2 linked regions of the Homo sapiens genome follow. The protein of the gene in region 1 interacts with the protein of each later gene in a biochemical or structural test. Each region holds a gene or a part of one and is shown in the gene's direction. Other genes may lie near its edges. The genes, in order: ARHGAP32 and BCAR1.

Region 1 (3,816 bases):
AGTATGATAACCTGGAAGATTACCACTCCCTGCCTCAGCACCAGCGAGGAGTCTTTGGAGGGGGCGGCATGGGGACGTATGTGCCCCCTGGCTTTCCCCATCCACAGAGCAGGACCTATGCTACAGCGTTGGGTCAAGGGGCCTTCCTGCCCGCAGAGTTGTCCTTGCAGCATCCTGAAACACAGATCCATGCAGAATGAGCCCTGCGAGCAATAGAGTTGAAGCAGCCTCTGCTGGACAGTGGACTGTTCTATTTTTTTCAATAACCAAAAAGATTAAACAAAAAATACTATAAAACCCCTGACCACATTTAAAAAATGATAATAAAAGTAAACAAATCAGCATCTTTTTCCCCTTCCCTGCTTCATTACCCCCTCTTCCATCTATAGACTTTGTCATTTTTGTCTTTAGAAAAGATCTGAAGGATGGTAAAGCCCCGTGCTGAAACCCAGTAGAGAAACCTGTCTCAGGACACACTTGCCATCTAGGGCTAGCTTGAAAGAGCCTGAGGACTGCCTTTAACTGAATTTGAATTCAGCATTGTCCTTTCTTCTTAGTATTTGCTGCATAATTGAGAGCAGTTCACATCGATTTCCTGGTAGGCGTCTGCATTCCCTGTTGTGTTCCTGCTTCTCCTTCAGTAGCTGCACAACTTGCGCAGATCGACACACTGTTGTCACTTCATTCTCCCCGTCTGAGAAGGATCTTGTGTTCAGTTAGAGTCGTGGAAAAATCCCTGATCCTTCAAGGTCAGTCAGACAGTTGGCAACATTATAATTAAAAATAAGAAATTAAGACTTTAAATTAAACATTTGGTAGAGTCATCATAAAACACCAGACCACTTAGACTCAGGCTGAACCATACTCTTTCTATTCTTATTTTTCATCCTTGTTCCTCACGGTTCAGTGAACAGGCTCATATCATGACAGAATGGACTTTTAAAAGTTAGTACTTAAGGAAACTTCTTTAGGTGGAAGAAAGTAAAGTTCTTATTGTCAGTGAACTTTATTAGCACCAGAAATCTCTATTGATGCTTTTAATGCATTGCCTGCCTTCAGGTTTTCTTCTTACCCCACCCCTCAATAAGATTTGGTGAATTGTAATTCTAGTAAAACATGTCATACCATTGGTTTTCCTAAATTATCAACTTTCTTTCATTAAAAAAAAAAAAAAAAAAAAAAGCCCAGCATGGTTTGACTGGATAGACACGCATAATTTATTATGAATATAAATTTCCATGTTTGTTTCTGTTCCTAAACCAGAGTACGAGGTCCCTGGGAATTTAAGTAGCTACGCATTATCTATTATTAGACTGCAAGTTCCTGCAATAACTGCTTAGTTCACAGCCCCGTTTCACCAGTGGAGTTCTGGGCAGTTATTGCTGTCCTAAGGCATTACTGTCGTTTGCTTACTCTATACTTGTGTGGTCACAGTCTTCTTGTAATTACCATCTACACCAGCATTTCAGGTATAGCTCTTTATAACTCTGGAGACATGTAAAACATGTTTAACACCCACGAGTTTTGAAAGTTGCATTCCTTATTAGAGTAGGAACTCTCTAGCCCAACTCCATTCTATGTTCTCAGCTCCCTCCACCCCCCAAAATACATCAGACTAGCAAGGCAGTCCTATGTTTACAAAACGAGTTTAGATTGTCATTTCATTCCATAACTCTTAATAATACTCAAGTTTTATACATTCACGTATTTTAAATGCTCGGTCTGTAGAAGACACTAGGAGAATTGCATTCCAATTACTGGATGGTTGCTGCTCTGGCTTTTTAGAACTTGAAATTAATTTTTATTTAGAGCAAAGGAGGAAATCTTTTAAGAGGCTAAAATCATGCTGCTATTATTGCTGTGAAATTGTATAAAGATTAGGATTCATGCCAGTTTTTATTTTAAAAAATAATGTGCATTTTAAGGGTTTATATTTAGAAAAAAATAAAATGTTTCAAGAACAACACATTGATATGTGGAAATATTCTATAAGGTTTTCTTTTGTTCCCTTAGAATTCATTGGAGGGATGCAGTAAAAACTGTAGTAGAAACCTTGAAACACCCATATGTGAAAAGGTCTGTGGAAATTGAGGCCTCTACATTAAAAGTGCAGAACCAACTGTTTTACAGTCAAAGTGCTAGGAAACCTGATAGGATACTTCCCTTTGGCACAAAAACACCCTGGGTGCTACATACAGGAGTATGACCTTTGGTGAATATGTGGCACTAATTTTTTTTACCTTAATCATATTCTTGTCAAGTAGGCAACCCATTGCCCCTTGGAGACCACACCAGCCCTGTAAGTTCTCACCAGCAGCATGGAGATTAGGAAGAGGGGCTGCTGTGACCAGGAGATACACACGGCTTTAAGTAACTGAGAGCCTAAAGAAAGTAACCCAGGGAGTCCGGTCCAGTTTTAATATTTGTGGATTTGTTGTCACACACATTGTTTAGTCCTGAAACTAAAACCTATTTTATAAATAGTAGGGTTAATTCCTCGAAACAATTTCTTTATTAATAAATGTCCTGTGGGTTTAGAAATATCAGGTAAATATTTGAATACAGAATGATGATTGCAATTACTGTTACAAGCGTGAAACACAAACTTCAGATCAAATCTAGAGTTGCTTCATTTAATGCATGCTAGCAACAGCCTTAACTTTGGATTCAGTTATTTGAAACACTTTTCCGGCATCTTTCCCTTTCTAATGTTGTGGGGTGGAAACCGGATGGCAAATCACTGTGAGCCGGATACCTCAGCACAGTCCACCTTGTGTGTGACTTCACAAATGGGGGACTTCACAAATGGGGTAACTGAATGTTATTACTTTCAAATTTTGACATGGAGCATTATGATCAAGGAAATGGAGCTGCCTTATACATTAAACCCGTGATTTAATCCTATTGACATTTTCATAGCCATGCCTCCAGATTTTATCTTTTTGGCAAAATTCTGATTCCACAGTTTGGTCTGATTGAAATAAATATTCCCTGGACGTCTGGCTAAAAATTTTGCTAACAATCCCAGAGGTGCCATTTTCTTATTAATAAATTTCATTGGAGCCTTATTTCTTACTATATTCAATTTCGTTTCAAACCTGCAAGTCCCTGGGATGGTCCCACGACTAGGGCCTGCACATTTCTTACAATGGCAAAGCATTTTTTAAAATTTAGGGTCAGGTTGAAAAATTCTAGGACTAATTCTGTAGAGAGGAGGGACTGTTAACTAACGTGAGTGGGGACGGAGGAGTAGGTTACCACATTTGGAGCAGTAATAGATGCAAACGATGTAAATTTGAAATTTGCCCCTTTAGTTAAAGAAGGAGCCTGCAAAGTCCATTTCTCTGTTTTCAGCCCTGTCAGTCACCCATTTAGGATGTTGGCAAAGTACTGCTTGAGCAGAATGTGTAAGAAAGTAATAATGAAAGCAAAAGTATGTCAGACAGTTACTTCTTCCACATGGTTAGAGGCATGTGATTTTCAGCACTGTGTGTTACAGAAATGTCAGGAATGGTGTATTATAACGTGTGCAAGATAATGTCAGTGTGCACAGAGGGTCTTTTTTCCTTATCTGATTAGTACTGTTAATGTTCAAAGAATAAAAATGGTTTTACAGTTTAGATTCTGAGATAGCAAAACCTGATTTTTCAACCATGACCTGCATGAGAGAAGCATCCTAGGAAGTCTTAGATCATACTTTTGAGTTTTTAATTTTAATTTATATAGTGTTTTTTTATGTCTTAATATTTTTGTGAACTGGTGTAAATTGTTAATGCATATAAGCTTGTGTATTTTTGTAAATAGTTTTGTGATTTA
Region 2 (3,816 bases), on another chromosome or scaffold:
GAGTCAGCTGGGAGTTACCCCCACCCCCGCCCATGGGTGGCCTGGTACCCAGGAGGCATGGCCGGAGGTCGTTGGCGGGTGGGGGACTCCATGGACATGGGCCACCAAGCCTGGCCACCAGGGGAACCTGGGTCACTGGCTCCCACTTCCTGCTCTACCTGCTCCTTCAGCCATCTGGTCAGAGGCGAGCCTGGCTGGCGTGGGGTGCCTGGGTGGGGGTGCTCCCAAACTGGCTTTAGCAAGAGGAGCAGGGTCCTGTTATCCCCTGGGGAGGCGGCAGGGAGCAGTGTCCTGTAGGGGAGCCTCAGGCCACAGTCCAGGTATACCCACACCCCACACAGATGAACACACGTGCATGATGCCTGTACCCCACAGATACGAACACCCATGCACACACCATATGCACGAACACACACATGCGCTACATGAATGTGCGTGAATACATGCACATATCTGCATCCCATACCCCATAAATGGACACACGTATACGCCCACACATGCGCACATCATATGCATGAACACGCACACACCCAAACCCCATATGTGTAAACACACGTGCATACTCACCCCACACACAGACACGTGTACGTCCACACATACAAAGCGTGTGCACCCACCAGTATCCCACAAACGTACAAATGTATGTGCGTATGCACACGCACACACAGTCCACACTGCACATGCCCCAAGGTCAGGCACATCCCCACCCCTCCTCTCCCGCCTTTGCAGTGAAGCTTGTCCTGGTGCGGCTGGAAGCCCTGTGGGCTGGGGAGCAGCAGCGAGACCCCCAGACAGAGCCCGGCCTCGAGGCTGTGTTTTGGCAGCTGTTCTGTCTCCGTCTCCGGCAGGGGGCCTGCTCTCAATTGCATCAGGGGCTCAGCCAGCTGGGTCCTTCTCTGCCCATGCCCACTGGTAGAGCTGCCCAGACCTGTGCCCCAAGGGCCCTGACCTGGCTGATGGCCCAGGAAGGAGAGCCCTGTGTCCTGGGCCTGGCTGCTCTCCCCCAGGAAACCTCCCCCAGTCTTGATTGTGTCTGCTTGTATTTTATGATCACAAAAGCAATGCTTGTTTGCTGTAGAAAATGCATAATGTATGGGAAAGTCTGGAGATGAAATTTTCCAATCGCGGTAATCACTGGGAAATTCTGGCATATTTTGTCTAGTATCTGCCCTGTGTTTCACAGATTTATACATGCAGTTTTGCATTTCAAAGTTGTAAATCCAACATTAGATATCAAAAGCATTTTGTTGAATTCTTAAAGCTTGTCCCTGAGCCGCCTTGGACTTTGCTGGGTTGCCCCCTCTGCTGGGGCGGGCCCTGGGCAGTTTCCGATTGCTCATGCCTTCATTACGGTGGCACGGCGGTAACACCTGGCTGCGGGACATCTGTGTCTGAACCTCCAGGTGCTCCCCTCCAAGCCTCAGGCCTGCCCCTCAAATGCCTGGGAAACTGAGTCTCCCAGTTCCAGGGTAGTGGTTGGCTGGGCTGAGAAGGAGCCCTTGCCAGGACTTCACGTGGGCGGGAGGGACACTGGCTCTCAGGAAGCCAAGAGGGTGAGTGACAAGGATGGTGGCCAGGAGGGTCAGAACCCTGGGCCCTGGAGCAGGGTCCAGTGGTTGCTAAGGTGGGAGCCTGGTGGCCCGTATGGCTGAGGGAGAGGTGAGGGCCACACTGGCACCGAGACTCTTTGGGCCGGGTGTGGGCTGTAGGAATCTGAGGGCAGAGGCTCTTTCATGGTCAGATGGGACCCCCGGGGGAAGGCGTCTGTGGGAGGTCGCTCAGGTAGTGCCCCTGGTCAGTGTCTAAGGAGACAGCCATGGCGTGAGGTCAGGCGTGCACGTGGTCCTGTCGGGCCTGTGTTTCACCCTCCTCGCCCTAGAAGCTTCATCTTGCCCCAGGCTCCCCTGTGCTGGGACCTCAGGCTGGGGTGCCTGGAGCTGGGGAGGGAGGGGAGCGGGCTATGGTGGTGGCCCCTCAGGCCACCATGACCCAGGTCGGGTGAGCCCCTCATGCTGGGGTGTGTCCTGGTGGCCGTGGTCGCAGCGCTCCTGTGGTGCTCCATTTCCCAAGGAGGAAACGAGGCTCCTGGATTGGGACCTGGGGGTGCCAGAGCCGGGAGCCAACCCAGGTCAGGGGCGACACCCATTTTGCAGAAGGGGGAGACCAGCCACTGAGCTCCAGGGCGGGGGCCCACTTTGTCCCCTTCCTCCGACCTGACACCTGCCTCTGGGGCCCTTACCGGGAGGCTGGGATGTATTCCTGAGTTCGCTTGTCCCCCCGCTTGATGCCTGATAGTAGGGGAGGAGAGGGGCGGCACCCTGGCCCTGGGGCTGCCTGGGTTCTGTGCGTGCACCTGGCAGTGGGCCTGTGCTGTGTTTTCTCTGCATTGTATGAGGCATGTGTGTCAGAGACCGTGTGGGTCTTATGTCAGTGACTGTGCCTCTGTTCTCTCCTCCTGGGCTCTGGCTGTGTTCCCCTAACCCCCGGGGGACCTCCACGGCCTGCTAGTGGGGTCTCAGGTGTGCAGCAGGGTGGCCTGTGATTAGCAGTGGGGCTGAGTCATTCCCCTAAAGAGCTTTTCCCCCTGGTGGCTGCGTTGCTCTGTTTTTCTAACAGAAACATTTGGTCACTGTGGCTGCCTACTGCCACCCGACTCAGCTCCAAGAGTGGCAGGCGGCCATTTGCCTGGGGAGGCAGGCCTGGGTCCAGCTGCACCCCTGGGCCTCACCGCGTGAGGTTGGGATGGCCACCGGCAGGGTGCTTTTGGAGGATGCTCATCCCTCCTGCTGGTGCTGGGTCCTGGCTGAGCCTTGAGGCTGGGTCCCCACCTGCCTTTGGGAGGCTGGGAGGCCTGGAGAAGCCTCAGGCCGTGCCTCGAGGCCCAGCCAACCTGCCACGTCCCTCCGCCCCGCCTGCCCCGCTGTTGGCAGGTCCCTGCATCTAAAAATAGTTCTGGAGGAGACTCAAGTCTGGGGCGCGTGGAGGGAGATGAGTCTGGAGAGGCAGCCGCCAAATCCACTCCCAGACGCACTGGAAGGGGGCGGGGACACCCCACGGAGGCCCCCAGCCGGGACTCTGCTACCAGGCGTGCTGGAGACCTAGTGGGCCCAGTTCTGCTGCGCTGCGGGGGGCTCTGCCAGGCCTGCGGCTGCTGGGGGGTGCTGGCGCCTCTGCCACCCCCATGCTCAGCGCCCCCCTCACAGCACCCTCAGCAAGCAGGGCTGGCTGCCTGCCTGCATTGGGAGGGCCTCTAGGGGTTCAGGGGCACTGGGCCCGGGGGAGGGGCTGCTTTGGCGCTGCTGCCCTGGGGGATGTGCGGGGAGGCCCTGAGTCAACCCTGTCCCAGACATCCCCTTTGATGAAGGAACAAAAGGTCTTTCAGTGGAGAGAGCTGAACAGGGAGCCTGGTGGTGGAGGCGTGTGGGCGCAGTGTGCCCGGGGGCTGGAGAATCCCACCAGGGAGGCCTTGACCTCCCCAAGGCAGGGAGACCTTCAGGGAAGGAGGCTGCCTGGCATGGCCCCTACCCGCTTCAGGCTGGTGCTGGTGAGGGGTCCTGTGGCCCTGGGCAGGCCATTGTGCTGCCTGCCTCTTCACCCACTGTGCGGGCCTTGGCTTCCCTGGGCTCTGGGTCATGGTAAGAGCACCTGGGGAGGGGAGGGCTGGCCCTGGACCCACTTCCCCCACTAGGCCTCATCCTTTCAGGTCGCTGGGGATCTTACCTGCTGCAGGCAGCTCCCCCGGGGCAGGCGCGGCAGGGAGGGGGCCTTGGTCCCAGCTGCTGCGCCCCCCAGCACACACCCAACCTGCCCCTCTGG

What was found.
Region 2: the proteins of ARHGAP32 (region 1) and BCAR1 form a complex in vitro, tested with the Homo sapiens proteins (one study listed by BioGRID).

Annotation. Positions count from the first base shown.
Region 1 is NC_000011.10:128,965,291-128,969,106, reverse strand, and holds part of ARHGAP32 (rho GTPase-activating protein 32), read left to right. Parts: coding exon 1-200; 3' UTR 201-3,816. UniProt on the Homo sapiens protein: GTPase-activating protein (GAP) promoting GTP hydrolysis on RHOA, CDC42 and RAC1 small GTPases. May be involved in the differentiation of neuronal cells during the formation of neurite extensions.
Region 2 is NC_000016.10:75,237,910-75,241,725, reverse strand, and holds part of BCAR1 (breast cancer anti-estrogen resistance protein 1), read left to right. Parts: intron 1-3,065; exon of another isoform or gene 3,066-3,632; coding exon of another isoform or gene 3,633-3,635; intron 3,636-3,816. UniProt on the Homo sapiens protein: Docking protein which plays a central coordinating role for tyrosine kinase-based signaling related to cell adhesion. Implicated in induction of cell migration and cell branching. Involved in the BCAR3-mediated inhibition of TGFB signaling.